Linked DNA regions of Homo sapiens: region 1 is linked to region 2. The links come from fine-mapping of genetic effects on plasma protein levels. A gene starts in region 2. The other region holds a variant in brackets. All regions are shown on one strand. Distances are between the middles of the regions.

Evidence for each region. A credible set is the group of variants that fine-mapping cannot tell apart. PIP is the posterior inclusion probability: the model's chance that the variant is causal. The UK Biobank Pharma Proteomics Project read protein levels with antibody pairs (Olink). The fine-mapping took linkage between variants from a reference panel, not from the people measured, so its PIPs are less certain.
Region 1: its variant is the best candidate, but not a certain one, in a credible set for the plasma level of the SIGLEC8 protein (UK Biobank, PIP 0.68).

Annotation. Positions count from the first base shown.
Region 1 is chr19:51,432,053-51,442,363 of GRCh38, reverse strand. No RefSeq gene overlaps it. Among named protein-coding and RNA genes, the nearest start is that of SIGLEC10, 20 kb to the right of the region's middle. RefSeq lists enhancers at 312-451, 752-1,041 and a silencer at 3,562-3,732. The variant A/C (reference allele first, on the strand shown) is at 4,260.
Region 2 is chr19:51,454,653-51,464,963 of GRCh38, reverse strand. SIGLEC8 (sialic acid binding Ig like lectin 8) reads left to right here and starts at 6,510. Exons shown (of 7, transcript NM_014442.3): 1 at 6,510-7,030; 2 at 7,225-7,503; 3 at 7,733-7,780; 4 at 9,277-9,546; 5 at 10,184-10,280. The coding sequence starts at 6,577. It also overlaps the pseudogene SIGLEC25P. RefSeq lists an enhancer at 999-1,747.

The DNA of each region.
Region 1 (10,311 bases), 23 kb after region 2:
AAAGGAGAACTGTTAGCTTTTTGGCATAATTCTAAGTTCCACACCAAGGATCCTATTTTATCACTTGGGTGGTGAGTAGAGAAACAAACACAAATGCCAACAAAAAATCCGACAAGCTGGTGCCATCCTCACCATTCCCGGCATGAGTGCTGCCTGCACCGCGGCACACACAGTCTCCCCTGCTATGGCTGGTGGGCCAGTTCCGGTTCTTGACTTTGCCTCAAGAAAAGAATTCGAGAGTGAGTCCAAGGTAAAAGTAAGCAAGAGAGTTAATTGCAAAGTGAACGTGCACTCTTAACAGCTGGTCAGAGCGGCTGCTCAAAGGTGAGACAGCGCTGACTGACGCTGGGGAAACTCCCTTTAGGGGAATCTTCCGTGATTACTCATGCGTGGGTGGGACGGTGTTGCTCTTAAGCGTGTTCTGGGTGGTCTGTTAGGCCCGCATGCGCAATGGCTGTACATGCTAGTGCATATACATCGCTGTCTCAGTAGCACCTTAAGTCTCCACGTGAGGGTGTGTTTTCACTATTATAATGAGCATAGGTCAGCCCAAGGACACTACCTAAGCATGGGTTTCTGCACTTGCACGGATATGGGGACTGTCCCTTCTTCCCTTCTACCTCCTTGCTACAGGATGTTTTGACCACGAGCCCAGGATGCGGTTTATGCGCTGTCGGGGTTTGCGAGCTGTCCGGCGGATTGTTCTCTCCGTCTATTTAGCAAATGTGTTTCCCTTTAAGGGAGGCTGTGTAAGGGAGGCTGTGAAACGCCTGTCTAACCTACTTACGCTGCAGCTGCACCAGGGAGCAACACAGAGACTTCACAGGAAAACTGGAAGAAACCACAGACCTTTCTAAAGAAGCGGTGGGCAGCAGCCTACACCACGAGCCAGGCAGAAAACTGTGAGTCCCCACAGTGTGAGAAGGGGAGAGACTGACTCAGGGATGTGTATTCTTTTGTAGCCTTTCCTTCGGGTTGAAGAGCACTTAGGTTGATTCTGTATCTTTCCAATCATTGAATTTTCTCAACTTTTTGCTTTTTCTTCTCCCTCAAGAACACCTATGAGTCTTAGATTTCGGGCAAGTCTACTTTCCCCACTCAAGATGACATTGCAGATCTCAGTCGGGAGCTTCTCTCAACCCGTGACCGCCTCCTGAGTCAGCTAGCTGGCTTCTGCAAGGCCCCCTGTGAGGTAGCATCGGGAATGGCTTCCCTCTGTCCCTGCTGGAGCCCAGGACTGCACGCCAAGCACATCCCAATGTGACTCCTTATCTACTCCCCAACGCTCCCTAACTCAGCTCCAGTGCTGGGCAGGGTGAGGGCTTCCCCCTCCTGTGGCCTGGACTGCGTGGCACCCCAGTGGGAGTGCACATCCCTGAGTCAGTCTCTCCCCTTCTCACACTGTGGGGACTCACAGTTTTCTGTCTGGCTCGTGGTGTAGGCTGCTGCCCACCGTTTCTTTAGAAAGGTCTGTGGTTTCTTCCAGTTTTCCTGTTAAGTTCCTGTGTTGGTCCCTGGTGAAAAGGTCACAACATAAATCTTTATACACTGTTTCATCTTTCCAAGGTGGGAGAGGCCGGCTAACAATGCCTGCAATCTGCCATCCTCTCTTTTCAGTTTTGATGTGTTATATACACTCATGCACATATACATAATGTTTACCAAAGTGGGATCATATTCTTAAATGTCCTTTATTAGGAATTCTGAAACATTAAGGGCAAATTTAATCAGAGGAAGGTGAATATACAGCTCTGAGTGTCTAGCATATATTTACAAAATATCTCAAGTCTTCTGTATCTAGATATAATTACAAAATATCTCTGAAGTCTTCTGTTTTACTCTGAAAGTCCCTATGAATGTTTGTGGCCTATGGAAAAACACGTTTCTGTTAGTTTCAACGGGAAAATAATGCATTCATTGTCACTAAAGTTGTCTGATTGACCTGACTCAGTATTTGAGTATAAATGACATCCCCAGAAGATATGCAAAGTGGACCTTCTGCCTTTAGCTCCTCTGAAGCACTTTTCACGCCCTGCCCTTGGGTCCTGGATCCCCACTGGAGAAGCAACAGCTCTGCACCACTACTGTTAATTATTCATGGCTGCATAGTATTCCACTGAATTTGATGTGTGTTGACTTATTCAACCAATACCCTATTTAGGAGCATTAAGCTTTTTTCAATTTGTTTTGAAACAGGGTCTTGCTCTGTTGCCCAGGCTGGAGTGCAGTGGCATGATCATGGTTCACTGCAGCCTCAACCCTCCAGGCTCAGGCAGTCCTCCTGCCTCAGCCTCCCGAGTAGCTGGGACCACAAGCATGCACTACCATGCCTAGCTAATTTTTTTTTTTTTTTTGTAGAGACAGAGTCTGCCTATGTTGCCCAGGCTGATCTCAAACTCATGGACTCAAGCAATCCTCCCACTTCAGCCTCCTTAAGTGCTGAGATGTAGGCTTGAGCCACTATGCCCAGCCAGTTCTTTCCATTTAAAAAATATATATAGACAATTTTTCCCAGAAGCATATGACGGGATAGACATAATTTTTAGAGCAGTTTAGGTTCACAGATTGAGCAGAAGGTACAGAGATTCTCCATATACCACCTGCCCCCACACATGCATAACCTCCTCTATTATCAGCATCTCCCACCAGAGTGGTACATTTGTCATACTTGATGAACCTCCATTGATACGGTATTAGCACCCAAAGTCCATCGTCTATATCAGGGTTTACTATTTTGTATACACAGCAGCATGCACAGCTTTTGCCTAGTCCGATTTGTAGATCCATGAAGAATCCCAGAAGTAGACTTGTGTGGGAAACACATGAACCTTGCCCAGAGAGAAATCTGGCCTTCTGGAGCACCTTGTCCAAAACCCTGTCTCTTCAGTCAGGAATAGCAGTATCCAGGGCTCACCTGGGGGCGGGTGGCAGCCTGGGGAGCAGACCCAAGGAGCTCTCAATCCATTTCTGGAGCCCAGCTTTGTACCTTCTTACCAAGAGAGCAGAACGTCACAGTCCCTCCCGGGGCAAAGTCCTGCCCGGTGCAGCCAGAGTGCACACTAATGAACAGCCACTCCTCCCCATTTATCAGGCCTGGAGACCAAATGGAATGTTAACCTGGGATTTTTGAGGAGCTGTACACAAGGTGGGGTTCCCTACCTGCTCCCTACCAGCATCCTTGGGGCCCTGTCTAGGCAAACCCCATCACCCCAAATGTATCATATCACTAGGGGGAGCCACAGAGTTGCACAATGCATCAACCCTCATCTTTGTCTACAACCTCTGGTAGGAGTAAGAAGTGGATAGAGAAGGTGAGAGGCAGGACCTCCCAAACGGCTTCCAGAGAAAATGGGAGTGGGAAAAAAAAGTGACATTAACAATAGCAATAACATTACCAATAACCTCAGATAGTAACTACTTCCTGTAGTTACCATTCCTGTTTGGTAAGATTGTAAATCTTTGTTTTTGGGGGTTTGTTTTTTGTTTGTTTAGTTTTTTTTTTTTTCTTCTTCTTTTTTGAGACAGAGTTTCTCTCTCGTTGTCCAGGCTGGAGTGCAATGGCGCGATCTCGGCTCACTGCAACCTCTGACTCTCAGGTTCAAGCGATTCTGTCGCCTCAGCCTCCCAAAATAGCTGGGATTGCAGGCGCCTGCCACAACGCCCAGCTACTTTTTGTATTTTTAGTAGAGATGGGGGTTTCCCTATGTTGGCCAGGCTCGTCTCGAACTCCTGACCTCAGGTGATCCGCCCGCCTCGGGCTCCCAAAGTGCTGGGATTACAGGCGTGAGCCACCGCACCCGGGGAGTTTGTAAATCTTGACATAGGTTAGTCTCTGAGTGACAGGGTGGGAGTCAGGTGTCAAGAAGCATTTGGGAGTCAAAAAGGGTGGAGGAGATTGGTGCAGGGATCCTGGCAAATCTCTGGGTGAGCAGCAGGGGGCGCCCTGATCAGGGCAGGGAATGTTGAGTTGGATACACAGCCATAAGGGGGTGTCATGGGGCTGTGGGAAGTCCACGGACTCTGCCTCAGAAGGGAAATTACTTGATCTCTGTATGCCTCAGCGTCCTCATCTGCAAAGTGGACATCAGAGCTCCTACATTTATTAGCCTGAGAACAAAAACCAGGCAGAATAAATGAACAACCACAGCAGCAACAACAAACAAGAACAAGAGCCAAAAGCAAACAGAGAGATGAGCCCTTATATCATCGGACCCTGAAATCCAGCCACCGTTGAAGCCAGGTCTACCCCTCTGATTTCC[A/C]AGACAACAGAAATCAATGCTTTTTTTCATTAAAAGCCAAAAAAAAAAAAAAAAGCATGCTATAACATTGAATAGAAACAACTATGATTTTGAATGTGAATATTAATTATACTCTTGTGGTTCCTGGGCATTGCCTGATGCATGAATTGTGGGAGAGGCAATGAGAGCTGCTACAAAGCCCTATGGAGATGGAGATCATGCAGCAAATGGCCAAGGGCCATGAGCCTTAGAAAACCTGTCCTGGGGTCGGGCGCGGTGGCTCACGCTTATAATCCCAGCACTTTGGGAGGCCGAGGTGGGCGGATCACAAGGTCAAGAGATGGAGACCATCCTGGCCAGCATGGTGAAACCCTGTCTCTACTAAAAATACAAAAATTAGCTGGGCATGGTGGTGCGCGCCTGGAGTTCCAGCTACTCGGTAGGCTGAGGCAGGAGAATCGCTTGAACCAAGGAGGTGGAGGTTGAAGTGAGCCGAGATCGCACCACTGCACTCCAGCCTGAGTGACAGAGTGAGACTCCGTCTAAAAAGGAAAAGAAAAGAAAAGGAAAGGAAAAAAGAAAGCCATACACAGTGGCTCACATCTGTAATCCCAGCACTTTGGGAGGTCAAGGCAAGTGGATCATTTGAGCCCAGGAGTTGGAGACTAGCCTGGGAAACATGGCAAAACACCATCTCTAAAAAATAGGAAAAAAGAGAAAACCTGTCCTTATAAATTATGATGGCATCTCTACATGCAAACCTGTCTCCAGAGAAGGCACATTCCCATCCGCTCAATGCTGCTCATCCTCCTTAAGGAACTGAATAAAGCTGGGCATGATGGCTCACACCTGTAATTCCAGCATTTTGGGAGGCCAAGCTGGGAGGATTACTTGAGGCCAGGAGTTTGAGACCAGCCTGGCCAACATAGCAAAACCTCATCTCTACCAAAAATTCAAAAAACTAGTGGGACGTGGTGACACACGACTGTAATCCCAGCTAGTTGGGAGGCTGAGGTACAAGAATCTCTTGAACCAAGGAGGTTGAGGCTGCAGTGAGTCAAGATCATGCCACTGCACTCCTGCCTGGGTGACAGAGACTCTGGCTTGAAAAAAAGAAAGAAATTGAATGAGCTTTTTGCCCAGTGAGGAAAGATTTCTTGTATGTAAATTCATGTGCTCTTCCTTGTTCATCAAAAGTTATTTTCTGTACACTTCACATTCTCATTGATTACTAAGAGAAATTCCTCGTACATATCAAGCTTAATTAGCTTGTACTCTATGCCCGAATATCCCTATGTGTCTCACCATGGGGTGATTCCCTGTCCACCTTACCTTTTGAGCTTAAATCTTCCTTGGCGAAATCAGAATAACCTCAAATGAGAGCATAATTTCCTACTAATTCCATGTGCAGCCTCATATTTTCTCTGTTTCAACTTCAAAGTGTTATTTATTTTAGTTCCGAAAGGATGTGTTTCTTCATATTTTCATTTAGAAACAAGGAATAGAATCTAATTGTTGGACAAAAGTCAGAGATGGAAATTCTTATAAAAAATCCTCCTTTCTTTGTCAACAAGCCCAATGTACCCTGAGAATCATTCTTATCATGGATATCGAGTGTGGGAATAGGTCAATGGGGGATTGAACCTTGAACTTCTGAGGGTTTGAACCCAGAAGTTCAAACTCCAGTCAACCTATTCGCTCATAAAAACATGGAGGAAAGAACTGGATGTGGCTCCTCGTGGCTGTCGGGAAGATGCTGTTGGAGCTTACAGGATGGAGGTGTTGCTCTCCCTTTCAGCTGCAGGAACGGCATGAGCCTTGAGCTGGGGAGACCTCACATTGCACGAACATTGCTAGCCAGAGAATGAAGATGGCTCAGGCACCTGCAGCCCACCATGCGGAGAGCAAGAAACAGCACCCTGAGGGTCACATTGGATATCAGTGATGTGCTGATCTTGACCTTGAGTTAGGAGATGTTCCCAGATTCCCCACTGCCTGGGCCAAAAATTAAGCAAACGTGTTTTTTTAATAAAACCCTTCTTTTCCAGATTAAGCTATCGGTTTTCATTTCTGTTCCTTGCAATTTAAAAAAATGAGATTATCGAAAAAATGAGCAGAGGCTTTGCTGTAAGAAATTTCTATATAGATTTTTTTTCCGCATGATTATTTGTTGATCTAAACTCATGGCATGGGAGATGACAAGGTTTCAGTAAAATGCCTGTTATGAACTGCATGTTTATGTTCCCCCAAAATTCATATGTTGAAGCCCTAACCACCAATGTGATGTATTTGGAGATGGGGCTTTTTGTAGGTAATTATGTTACATGGGGTCATGAGGGTGGGGACCCACTATGGAATTAGTGCCTGATATGGTTTGGCTGTGTCCCCACCCAAATCTCATCATGAATTTCCACGTGTTGTGGGAGGGACATTGCGGCTGGTAATTGAATCATGGAGGCAGGTCTTTCCTGTGCTGTTCTCATGATAGTGAATAATTCTCACAAGATTGATGGTTTTAAAAAGGGGAGTTTCCCTGCACAAGCTCATCTCTTGTCTGCCGCCATATGAGACATGACTTTCACCTTCTGCCATGATTGTGAGGCTTCTCCGGCCACGTGGAACTGTAAGTCCATTAAACCTCTTTCTTTGGTAAATTGCCCAGTCTCAGGTATGTCATTACCAGCAGTGTGAAAACGGACTAATACAGTGCCCTTATAAGCAGAGACCCCACAGAACTTGCTGTCTCTCAACCATGTGAGGACACAGTGAGAAGGTGGCATCTACAAGCCAGGAAACAGAGCCTCACAAGAAAACAAATCATCTGACAACTTGATCTTCTAACCTTGGACTTCTAACCTCCAGAATTGTGAGAAATAAATTTCTGTTGTTTATAGGAGGCTTAATTTATAGTATTTTGCTATGGCAGCCCAGACTAGCTAACACAGTGCCCTAACCACATGTATTCCATGTGGCTACAGTATTCTCTGCACAGTGGCCAAGTATGGTGGCTCATGCCTGTAATCCCAGCACTTTGGGAGGCTGAGGCTGGTGGATCACTCGAGGTCAGGAGTTCGAGACCAGCCTGGCCAACATGGTGAAACCTGGTCTCTACCAAAAATGCAAAAGTTAGCTGGGTGTGGCGGCGGGCGTCTGTAATCCCAGCTACTCAGGAGGCTGAGGCAGGAGAATCACTTGAACCTGGGAGGCGGAGGTTGCAGTGAGCTGAGATCGCACCACTGCACTCCAGCCTGGGCAACAGAGTGAGACTGTCTCAAAAAAAATTATACAAAGACACTTTATTTGTAAGGTAATATTTAGAAGTTCAAGGAGCTGAGACTGTATTTCTTTGGGTGGCCATTATTCAGCTTGCTGAGCTGTCCATGTGATCTCTTATGCATTGGAACTCTTGTGCATTGCTGATGGGAAAGTTAAATGGTGAAGTTGCTCTAGAGAGTAGTAGTGGGGTTCCTCAAAAAAATTAAAAATAGAATGATCTTATGATCCAGCAATTTCACCTCTGGGTATATGGCCCAAAAGATCAAAAGCCGGAACTTGAGCATAGTTTTATGCATCTGTGTTCACAGAAGCATATTCACAGTAGGTAAAAGGGAAAAGCAACCCTGCTATTCCTAAAAAGTGAATGAATAAACAAAGTGTATTGTATACATGCAATTGAATATTACTCAGCCTTAAAATAGAAGGAGAAGCTGGGCTGGGGCATGGTGGCTCACGCCTGTAATCCCAGCACTTTGGGAGGCCGAGGTGGGCATATCACTTGAAGTCAGGAGTTCTAGACCAGCCTGGCCCACATGATGAAACCCCATCTCTGCTAAAAATATAAAAATTAGCCAGGCATGATGACATGTGCCTGTAATCCCAGGTACTCGGGAGACTGAGGCAGCAGAATCGCTTGAACCTGGGAGGCAGAGGTTTCAGTGAGCCCAATCATGCCACTGCACTGCAGCCTGGGCAACAGAGCAAGACCCTATCTCAAAAAAAAAGAAAAAGAAAAAGAAAACAAAAAACAAAACAAACAAAAAAACCAAGGAGACAGGCATGGTGGCTCACACCTGTAATCCCAGCACTTTGGGAGGCCGAGGCAGGTGGATCACCTGAGGTCAGGAGTTCGAGACCAGCCTGGCCAATATGGTGAAACCCCATCTCTACTAAAAAAAAAAAAAAAAAGAAAAGAAAATACAGGCCGGGCACGGTGGCTCACGCCTGTAATCCCAGCACTTTGGGAGGCCGAGGCGGGTGGATCACCTGAGGTCAGGCATTTGAGAGCAGCCTGACCAACATGGTGAAACCCTATCTCTACTAAAAATACAAAATTAGCCAGGTGTGGTGGCACGTACCTGTGATCCCAGCTACTCGGGAGGCTGAAGCAGGAGAATTGCTTGAACCTGGGAGGTGGAGGTTGCAGTGAGCCAAGATGACGCCACTGGACTCCAGCCTGGGCAACAAGAGCGAAACTCTGTCTCAAAAAAAAAAAAAAAAAAAAATTAGCCGGGCCTGGTGGCAGGTGCCTGTAATCCCAGCTACTCAGGAGGCTGAGGCAGGAGAATTGTTTGAACCTGGGAGGTGGAGGTTGCAGTGAGCTGAGATCACGCCATCACACTCCAGCCTGGGCGACAAGAGTGAAACTCCGTCTCAAACAACAACAAAAAAAAAAAAAAAAAAAAAAAAGAAGGAGAAGCTAGCACATGATGCAGCGTGGATGAACCTTAAATATATTCTAAGTCAGTCACAGCAGGACAAACACTGTATGATTCCACTTATATGAGGTGTGTAGAGGAGGCAAATTCACAGACACGGAAAGTAGAGCCATGCTTGCCAGGGGCTGTGATCAGAAAGAAATAGGGGGTTTTCACCTCTTTGATGCAGTTTCAGTTTGGGAAGGTGAAGAAACTTCTGGAGATAAATCATAGTGATTCATAACAACGTGAGTGTACTTGGTGCAACTTCTCTAAACACTGAAAAATAGTTAAAACGGTAATTTTTTTCTTCTGTATATTTTACCACAATTAAGAAAAAAGCTACTGAAGATTTCATAGCCACCTCACCAAAAAAGAAAAGCAGATGGCGAACAAGGCCGTGAAAATAGCCTCAATATAATTTGTCATTAGGTAATTGTAGAATAGAAGAAGAATGAGGTAGAATTACATACCTAAGAAAAATGACTGAAAAGTACAACAAAGGTAACAAGAAATTTTAAAATATGTGGATGATATCACATGCTAGCAAGGATGTGAAGTGATCAGAGCTCATGTCTACTGCTGGTAGGAATACAAAATGGTATATACACTTTGGAGAATAGTTTGTCAATTTTGTATAAATTTAAACTTACACTTGACCAAGTGTACGTCTGACCAAGCACTCGACTCCTAGGTTTTTACTCAAGGGAATTAAAAACTTATGTTCACACGCAGAAAGTTGAATGGAATGTTTATAGCAACATTATTTTAGAGTCACCAGAACCTGAAAACAGTTGCAATGCTCCGCAAATGGCAAATACATGCAAAATGAGAGACCATGAAAACAATGGAGCACCAGTCAACAATTAAACTAAAATGACAGATTTATACCCAGCCCCATAGATGAGCCTCAAAAGCATTATGCCAAGTAAATGAAGCCAGATTTTAGAGGATACATTTTGTATGATTCCATTTATATGACATTCTATAAAAAGGCAAAATGGCAGGGATGGAGAATAGATCCGTGTTTTCTCAGGGACTAAGTGTAGAGGGAGGATTGACTACCTAGAGTCAGCAGAGGGAGGAAATGTTCAGGTAATGACACTTTTCATTGTCTTCACAGCGGTTGTGTATATAACTATATGCATCGGTCAACCCACATAAAATTACATATGATAAAGAATGAATTCAACCATATCTAACTTTAAGTAAATTTTTAAAAATTAAACATAAGATGCCACTGCACTGTCACTAGAACTCTTAAAATATAAAGCATAAGCTGGGCACAGTGGCTCACGCCTATAATCCTAACACTTTGGGAGGCCAAAGAGGAAGAATTGCTTGAGGTCAGGAGTTCAAGACCAGCCTGGGCAACATGG
Region 2 (10,311 bases):
AGATCGAGACCATCCTGGCTAACAAGGTGAAACCCCGTCTCTACTAAAAAATACAAAAATTAGCCAGGCGTGGTGGCGGGCGCCTGTAGTCCCAGCTACTCGGGAGGCTGAGGCAGGAGAATGGCGTGAACCCGGGAGGCAGAGCTGGCAGTGAGCCGAGATCGCGCCACTGCACTCCAGCCTGGGCGACAGAGCGAGACTCCGTCTCAAAAAAAAAAAAAAAAAAAAAAAGAAAAGAAAGAAAATAAGAAAGCTTGGAGGGATGAAAAAAAGATTCCCTATCTTGATTGAGGACATAGTTACAGGGTGTTTACATTTGCCAAAACTAATTTAACTGTATGCTTACAATGTGTGCTTTTTATTATACGTAAGGTATGTCTTCATAAAGTTTATATGAAGTTAACGCTGTAGTAGATGGGAAAAATGCAATATAATCGTGATGAAGAGTAATGACTTTGGGTTGATATGGGCCCTTTCTCTCTCTGTCTCTCTTTTTCTCGATGAAATCGGCTTTATTTTCTCACACTTTACCCACTGCACACTTTCGAAACACTTCTTGCTACTCAACAATATTTTTGTGGCCGCCGCACTAGGATACAGGCGCACTGCGGGCAGAATTTTGGCCGTTTTTTTCTCGCCGCTGTTTCCCCCACGGCCTTTGGCTGCGCCCTGCTCGCTGCTCTGGGATGAACTTGCCTTTCAGGCAGCCCTGCCCATCTCTCACCTCCCAGCTCACCTGTCCCACCTGCCCGCGGATCCTCACCCTCTCCGCTGGGCTCCCACAGCCCCGTCCTCCCCGCTGGCTCAGCCCGGACCCCGCCAGGCTGTGCCCGCCTCTGTCTCCCCTGCCCGTGGCCGGTGCCCCTCCAGGCTCCGCCTCGCCCAGCCCAGACGCCCAGGCGGCTCCGCCCCATAGATGGGAGGCAACTGCCCAGGGTGCAGGGGCAGCGAGGGGCTGCGGCTGAGAGCCCTGCCCGGTCCTGGGGAGGGAGGGAGAGTGTGGGTGGAGGGGGCAGCCCTGCAGATGTCAGAGACAGGGCGGCAGCAGCACAGGTTTCCTCTGGTGAGGAGCCCTTCCCTTCCCTTTTCTCCTTCCATCCTCTGAGCATCCCATGTTACAGGCTGTCCCAGACCCCTGTGGGACTCTGCATCCACCGCGGTCCACACCGGGCTGTGCTCACAGGAACACATCGAATCCTCTCGACCACTCCATGGACTCTCTTGCCAGGGCCGCCTTGAGAAAGGAACACAGACCGAGTGGCTTCACCAACGCCTTTGTTTTCCCACCCTTCTGGAGGCTGGAAGTCTGAGACCAAGCTGTGGTCAGCGTTGCTTCCTTCTGAGGCCTCTCGGTGGCTTGCGGGTGGCATCTTCTCCCTGTGTCCCACGTGGTCTTTCTCCCGAGTATGTCGCTGTCCTAATCACACCTTTTTTTTTTTTTTTTTTTTTTTTTTGAGACAGAGCCTCACTCTGTCGCCCAGGCTGGAGTGCAGTGGCACCATTTTGGCTCACGGCAGCCACCGTCTCCCGGGTTCAAGCAATTCTTCCGCCTCAGCATCTGGAGTAGCTGGGATTACAGGCACATGCCACCACGTCTGGATAATTTTTGTATTTTTAGTAGAGACGGGGTTTCACCATGCTGGTCAAGCTGGTCTCCAACTCCTGACCTCAAGTCATCTGCCCGTGTCGGTCTCCGGAAGTGCTGGGATTACAGGCCTGAGCCACCACACTCCACCCCTAATCACCCCTTCTAATAAAGACACAGCTCATGTAGGATGAGAGCTAACAACTTCATTTTAACTTAGTCACCTTTTTATAAGTCCTCGTCTCCAAATATGGTCACTTTCTGAGGTGCTGGGGGTTAGGACTTCAGCATAGGAATTTGTAGGGGACACAGTTCATCCCTGACACCCCGTAAGTGTTGACATCCGACGATGCACAGTGCAGGTAAGCCCCCTCCCAAGACAGCACCGTGGGTTTTACAGAGCCCAGCTCAAGCCAGCAGCCATCCAGCTACAGAGCCTGTACCCCTGAACTCTCTCTGTGAGGCCTCAGCTGAGGAAGCCCCAGAGCAGTGTGGACCACCAGGAGCTCCTTACTGAGGGCAGGACTCCGAGTGACCCCTGAGAATGGTTAGGGCCAGACACGTGGATGCTTCGGGCCTGCCCAGGGACACAGAGCATGTTGGCCATGCCTGAGTCTGCAGAGAACGTCGCCTCCTCGAGCTGGGTTCTCCCTCAGGCTGAGGGGTGGGTGCTGTGATCCCTCCAGGGGACAGATGAGGAGACTGAGACTTGGAGGGAGAGGGCCCAGGACCCTCACACTCCAGAGCCAGGGCCTCCCCTAGCATCTTGGGCTCAGCCTTGCTCCCCATGCTGGGCTCACAGGGCCTCGGCTGTGCAGTCACCACCAGGCATGCTGGGCAGGGGGCACTGAGAAGGTTAGGAAGGCTGGGGACCACCTGTGGGGCCGCATGCTCACAGCACCTCAGAGTCCTGGTCCCGTCCACTCTGCCCGAGTATACCTGAGACCGCACCTTCTAGCTGCACAGGGCCCTCGGGGTTCCACAAGCCCTGCCTGTGTTTCAAGCATCACAGCCCTTACTAACAGGAGCTGGGGTGGCCCAGGGCTCCTCTGCCCCCTCGTTCATTAGGGAACTTCCCAAGGAAGGAGACAGAGTCTGTCACACTCTCCCCTTTGCCTCCATCCCCCTGAAAGGAGGAGATGCTCCTGATGTGGTGATTGTGCTCATTCATTAAACATCACCTCTCCCGCCTCGGGGGACCCCTCCCCATCTCTCATGCCTCGTGGTTCCTCCGCCAGCCCCTCCTGAGTCCCAGCTCTGGCAGGACTGACCCTCCCGAGCACCTAGAAGCTGTAATGGACAGGCAGTGCCTGCTTCCCTGGTGTGGACAGTGCTGTGGGAGGGAAAGGCTGTGGGCAGAGAGCCTGCAGCTGTGGGTCGGGGCCTCCCTGCTGTGTGTGGCCCACACTGAAGACCCATCCGGAGAGTAGAAATGGCCACTCCCCAGGAGCCCTGACAGCTCTGGCAGTGTCGGGGCCAAGGTCCTCTTTTGTGGTCAGTTATTTTTCTGATCTTACCCCCAGGCTTCCTGTGGGGCCCTTCTAGGGCCCTGCGACACCAAGGCTCACCCTAAAGAAGCTCACGCTGCAATAGCTGCTGCCCCTGCTGTGGGCAGGAGAATGGGCCTCAGGGAGAGGAACCATGGGGCTGGGCTGGGCTGACCCTCATTTCCCCACAGGGGATCTGGCTCAGGATATGAGATCCCGGCAGGAAGCCCCAGAGTTGGTGCAGGTGCAGGAGGGTTTCTGTGACTACGCACTGCTCCATCTTCCACCCCTGTGGGTACCTGTCTGACTCCAGCCCTGTCCAAGGCTACTGTCCCAGAAAGGGGACATTTCCATCAGGATCCTCAAGTGGCTGGAAGCAATCTAGTTGGAAAAGAGCAGGAGGAGACCCAGAGCCAATTCCACCTGCTTCAGACCCCAGGCCAGCACCTGCTTTCTGGACGTCAGAGACACACAGAGGCGAGATGCAGGGACAGACCTCTTTAGGGAGAAAAGGGAGATCTATGTGAATGTAATTACAGAAATGCTCTATGTGCATGTGAAGGGTAAGGAATGAGGTTATGAAAGGACACACGAATGGGGGTTCCCAGGGCAGTGAAGCTGACACATCAAATTAACTGTCACACTGCCCAAGGAGGCAGTGCTCAGCTCATACACAGAAACACACAGGTACACACAGACACTCCCTCTCCCTCACACACAGGGTCTCTCTCTCTCTGTCTCTCTCTCTCTCTCAATCACACACACACACACACACACACACACACACACACACACACCCAAGCATTGGGCATTCTGGGTACTGAGATGCGCTGTGTCCTTCCCTTTGCCCTGGGAAGCTGGGTCTCCCCTGAAAAGGTGAATGGCGCTAGTTGTCAGGTCAAAGAGACCCTGGGACATCGTCTTAGGATGAGAGAACTATTTGGGATGCCATTTTATGGATCCCTTGCCTGTCACTGTATGTGTCTCTCTGGGCCACCTGTGTCCATGTGGGTCACCAATCCCCATGTCAGGATTCAATGATTCTCTGCTCCCTAAGGCATAGCCCGTGGTGTCCCACACGCCCTCCTTGCCGTCCAGCAGGTGAACAAGTGAGCGGCTATCGTGTCTCCCTATGAGATGGGCCAGTGGTCAGCGTCAATATGTGAGAGCTGCAACAGCTCCTGCCCCTACACGGACCCCTCAGGGCTGCTGCTCCAACTTCCCCCTTCCCTTGTGGTGAACTTTGTCCAGGAAGCAAACAGGGAAGGGGATTCTGGGAATTGTAGTTCCAGCCTGGCTAAGTTGCTGGAGAGCAAGGCCTGCACAGGAGTCTTCACTGAAGGCTTCAATTACCACTTGGGGACCATGGAAAAGACCTGTGCCATGGCTCGGCCCTTCTGACTATTGAGATACTGCAGCTGTCTCTACTGGGCAAGGATAGGAGGCCCAGGAGGGGGAAATGGCTGCAGAATGAGATACCAGCTACAAATGCAAGCATTGGTGATGGGGGTGGGAGTCGGCTATGCACACCCAAGCCCTGCACCTTCCCTTCTCAATTATCACAGCCGAATGATCTACTCCAGGTTATAAGTAATGAGGGGAAGATAGGAGACGGGCAGATCCATGAAGCTGAGTGGAAGAAAGTAGAGTTTGATTTTCTGTGTATACAAAGTCTTCAGAAAAACGTGCAAAAGCTTAGTAAATGCAGCCTGCTCAGATAATAAAACTATATAGAAAAGCATTGAGGCAATTTGCACCAAAGTGAGGCTAGGGGATCGTTTGGGAGGGAGTGGGGTGTGGCCAATAAGAAGGAGAAACAAATGAGCAGCGCTGGGGACTTTGTCAATGTGCCATTTCTAGGAGGGGGCTCGTTGTATGTAAATCACTGAGGTCTTCTTTGGGGGTTGTTTTTATCTATATTTCTTATATTTACCCCCCAAAAAATGTTTCAAGAAAATTGACCTGAGTCTAAGGAGGCTCCGCCTCCCAGGATCCCCCTTAACTTCTTCCCAGCCCCCAGCCACACAGTTTAAAATAATCTGTTGAGGCCAGGCACGGTGGCTCACACCTGTAATCCCAGCACTTTGGGAGGCTGAGGTGGGTGGATCATGAGGTCAGGAGATCCAGACCATCCTGGTCGACATGGTGAAACCCCGGCTCTACTAAAAATACAAAAATTAGCTGGATGTGGTGGCGTATGCCTGTAATCCTAGCTACTTGGGAGGCTGAGGCAGGAGAATCGCTTGAACCAGGGAGTCAGAGGTTGCAGTGAGCCGGGATCGCGCCACTGCACTCCAGCCTGGCGACAGAGAGAGACTCCGTCTCAAATAATAATAATAATAATAATAATAATAATCATCATCATCATCATCATCATCATCATCATCTGTTGAATTCAGGTGCACATTTCTTCTCTCAAGAAATCCTGCCCATCGCTGAAGGTGCACACCCCAGGGCTGGTGTCCTCGTTCCATGACACCTGTTCACCTGGACCCCTGGAAGCAGAGCCTGCAGGAGCAAAGCCCCAGGGCTGACAGACCCCGCCTGCTGTGCAGTAACCAGGGGAAGTGTGGCTGAGTAAGATACGGGTGGTGAAGAAACCCATTCTGATACCCAGATAGCTGCAACAAAGGGAGAAGTGTGTGCCCTTTTCAAATTGACCCTTTCCCTTCTGACATTTCTCCCTTCCAAACCCCACAGTACAACAGTTACAGCCTCAGTTTCCCAGGCCTCCTGCGAGCCAGGCTTCCCCCCGCCCCCCGTCCTTCGTGTGTATCAACATGCAGAATCCTCACCTCCACAGCCCCGTGTCCCTCTGCTCAGGCCTCCTGAGACTGAACCCCTGACCTAGGGGAGAACGACCCCACCTTGCCTGTGCCCCCCACTGAAGCTCCCGTCCTGGGGAGCTCAGACGTCAGGAGCCTCCGTGTCTCCCCTCTGCACAGTGACTCCTTGAGGACAGTGTCTGGCTCTGCTCTGTTGACCTCGTTGTGTAAAGAGGAGGTGCCCACTTCGTTGCTGCTGAGAGAGGGAGGAGAGGCTGCCTGCTCACCTCACCTGCACCCCAGTCTCTCATGGCCCTGAGTTCCACCTTTGGCTGGTATGACCTCCACAAACAGTGACAGCCCCGGGGGTGATTCAGGGGTCTGGCCAGATGGGACCCAATTTCACCTTGCAGAAAATGTTACCCAAATGGAAGGGCAAGTCCGGGAAGCAAGAAAGAGGTTGGGCCCTGCATAGGGTGGGAATCTGGATGAGTTTCTCACCCTCTCTGGCCTCAGGGTTCCCAGGAGTGGAAATGGGGTGGTGGACAGTGGATCTCCCAGGACTGACCCGGCCCTGACAGTGTCTGTGTGTGAAGTTCCTCCTCTGAGGAGGTCACTTTTCTGACTTCACCCCCAACCTCCTGCGGGACCTCCCCTAAGTCTTGAGACCTCAGTTTCTGAGAGAAGAACCCTGAGGAACAGACGTTCCCTGGCGGCCCTGGCGCCTTCAAACCCAGACATGCTGCTGCTGCTGCTGCTGCTGCCCCTGCTCTGGGGGACAAAGGGGATGGAGGGAGACAGACAATATGGGGATGGTTACTTGCTGCAAGTGCAGGAGCTGGTGACGGTGCAGGAGGGCCTGTGTGTCCATGTGCCCTGCTCCTTCTCCTACCCCCAGGATGGCTGGACTGACTCTGACCCAGTTCATGGCTACTGGTTCCGGGCAGGAGACAGACCATACCAAGACGCTCCAGTGGCCACAAACAACCCAGACAGAGAAGTGCAGGCAGAGACCCAGGGCCGATTCCAACTCCTTGGGGACATTTGGAGCAACGACTGCTCCCTGAGCATCAGAGACGCCAGGAAGAGGGATAAGGGGTCATATTTCTTTCGGCTAGAGAGAGGAAGCATGAAATGGAGTTACAAATCACAGTTGAATTACAAAACTAAGCAGCTGTCTGTGTTTGTGACAGGTAAGGCACGGGCTCCAGCACAGGCCACAGGGGAAGGTCATGAGGGGCTGAAAGGCAGGGCTGGGATGGGGCCTGGGAGGGGGTTGGGATTGAAATAAGTCGGTCTCCGGGGAGGAGCTGGACCAGAGCTTGAGCTTCCTCCAGGGCTGCACCTGAAATACCTCCTCCTGATCCTGTGTCCCCATCTTCACCAGCCCTGACCCATAGGCCTGACATCCTCATCCTAGGGACCCTAGAGTCTGGCCACTCCAGGAACCTGACCTGCTCTGTGCCCTGGGCCTGTAAGCAGGGGACACCCCCCATGATCTCCTGGATTGGGGCCTCCGTGTCCTCCCCGGGCCCCACTACTGCCCGCTCCTCAGTGCTCACCCTTACCCCAAAGCCCCAGGACCACGGCACCAGCCTCACCTGTCAGGTGACCTTGCCTGGGACAGGTGTGACCACGACCAGTACCGTCCGCCTCGATGTGTCCTGTGAGTGCTGGACCAAGATGCCCAGGTCCCTCATGGGTTGGGAGGTGTTCCTGAGGGCAGGGGATGGGGTTCAAGCCTGGACACTGGGTTCTGGGTCCCAGAATCTGGGCTGGGAGTGGGGTCAGGAGAATGCCGACTCCATTTTCCCTGTATTTGCAGCTCCTGGGAAGACAGGGCCAATGTCCCCAGTCCTTATAGTAATGTGGGTCTTCATGTCTTTCTGTCCCAGACCCTCCTTGGAACTTGACCATGACTGTCTTCCAAGGAGATGCCACAGGTAGGACAGAGCCCCCTCCCTGGGGTTGGGGGAGCAGGGCCTTCAGCTCAGGATGGGGCTGGGTCTCTCCTCATCCTGGAATCACTTTGGGAAACAGAGCTGCCACTGTGCGTGAGCCCAGGGCACAAGAGCCCACATCTCCAGCCCGCGTGACCATCTGAGCCCCTGTCCCCATCCTGTCCCTGCTCCCCTTAGACTCCTCCACACACCCCTTCCTTGGCCCCACAGCAAGGACAGGGTGACATTCACACAGCTGGATCAGACTCCCAATTTTTTTGGTTTTTGTTCGTTTTTATTTTGGGACCAGACTTTCAAGTTTCTTGTCAGGCATCTCCTGAATACTTCCTCTGTCTGATCTTTCTGTTTTCCCAGTAGTTTCGATCTAAGTACTTCTGCCCAGATGATACAGTCACATGGGCAGAAATTCAAAATGCACAGCAAAGTCTGTCCTCCAGTGCCCATCCCCCTCCACGGAACTGACCAGCGTCCGTCCAGGCTGCCCTGAGTCTTGGTTTGTGCACCTGGAGGATCTCAGAGGTGGTTTGACATCGTAGTGAGACTGTCCACCCCGTCCTCTAGGACCGTGTGTGATTTCACTGCACAGATGGACTCTGACTTTGTGGCATCCCTTAAGGAAAATCATGGCACAAATATCCTTCCGCAGAAACTGTGCAGTGGATAGTCTTGTATCTACTTCCACAGGAATATCTAAGTGTATGGGATAAATTCCTAAAAGCAAAATATACCAGTGTCGTATGTTGTTTCTAATTTTGAAAGATGCAGTGAAGTTGTTCTCAATTAAAAGTGGACAAGTTTACATTCCCAGCACTGAGTGTGCGTTTTCCTGCACTTCAGTCTATGTCTGTGTGTCAGTCCCTCTCACTAGTCTCTTTCTGTGTCCTTCCTCTTTCTCTGGATCCATTTGTCTCTCTGACCCTCTGTCTCCTTTTATTATTATTATTATTATTATACTTTAAGTTTTAGGATACATGTGCACAACGTGCAGGTTTGTTACATATGTATACATGTGCCATGTTGGTGTGCTGCCCCCAGTAACTTGTCATTTAGCATTAGGTATATCTCCTAATGCTATCCCTCCCCCCACCCCACAACAGTCCCCGGTGTGTGATGTTCCCCTTCCTGTGTCCATGTGTTCTCATTGTTCAGTTCCCACTTATGAGTGAGAACATGCGGTGTTTGTTTTTTTGTCCTTGCAATAGTTTGCTGAGAATGATGGTTTCCAGCTTCATCCATGTCCCTACAAAGGACATGAACTCATCATTTTTTGTGGCTGCATAGTATTCCATGGTGTATATGTGCCACATTTTCTTAATCCAGTCTATCATTGTTGGACATTTGGGCTGGTTCCAAGTCTTTGCTATTGTGAATAGTGCCACAATAAACATACATGTGCATGTGTCTTTATAGCAGCATGATTTATAATCCTTTGGGTATATACCCAGTAATGGGATGACCCTCTGTCTCTTTCTCTGCAGCATCCACAGCCCTGGGAAATGGCTCATCTCTTTCAGTCCTTGAGGGCCAGTCTCTGCGCCTGGTCTGTGCTGTCAACAGCAATCCCCCTGCCAGGCTGAGCTGGACCCGGGGGAGCCTGACCCTGTGCCCCTCACGGTCCTCAAACCCTGGGCTGCTGGAGCTGCCTCGAGTGCACGTGAGGGATGAAGGGGAATTCACCTGCCGAGCTCAGAACGCTCAGGGCTCCCAGCACATTTCCCTGAGCCTCTCCCTGCAGAATGAGGGCACAGGTGGGTAAGGGAGGGGCTGGAGGAGGAGAACACACCTGCCCCACCCTCATGGACCACCCACTGCCCCTGAGCTTCAAGGGGGAGCTCAGCTCTGGTCTGTGCTCAGCTGTGAGGCCTGGAACTTCCCTGCGACCCAGAGCATCACTGTCCTCTCCCCGCCAGGAAAGGGGTGCGGGGTGGGGAGAGGGGAGGAGTGGGTCTTGGAGGGGAGGAGCTGGGGCCCGGCCAGGTGTGTTTGGAGGGACAAGCGCCTTGCTTTGCAGTGCTTAGACTAGGATGAGGCACATGAGGCACTTGCCTTGGCACCAAATTTAAGAAGCCAAAGAAAAACCCAACTCAGAAAGCAAGTAAAGTAATATTGCAATGCCATGATCTTTTGAAAAAACTAAAATTGAATGCAAAATGATTCCACAAGAACACAATATCAAAATTGTAAATAAAGGCAAGACAAGCTGCATCCAGCACTCTCATGCCTCACTGGCCTCAGAAGTAGTCTCCTTTCCTCCCTCCCATTCGTATTCTGTGTCTGGGAAGGAGAAGAGGGGAATGGAAGTCTAGGGCCCTGCAGACAGTGGGAGGGGAAGAGACCCACTTCTCCGTGATATAAATCCCCAAAGCAACTCCAATCCATCTGCAGGCACCTCAAGACCTGTATCACAAGTGACACTGGCAGCAGTCGGGGGAGCTGGAGCCACAGCCCTGGCCTTCCTGTCCTTCTGCATCATCTTCATCATGTGAGCATTGACCCTGGGGAGGGAGAGAGAG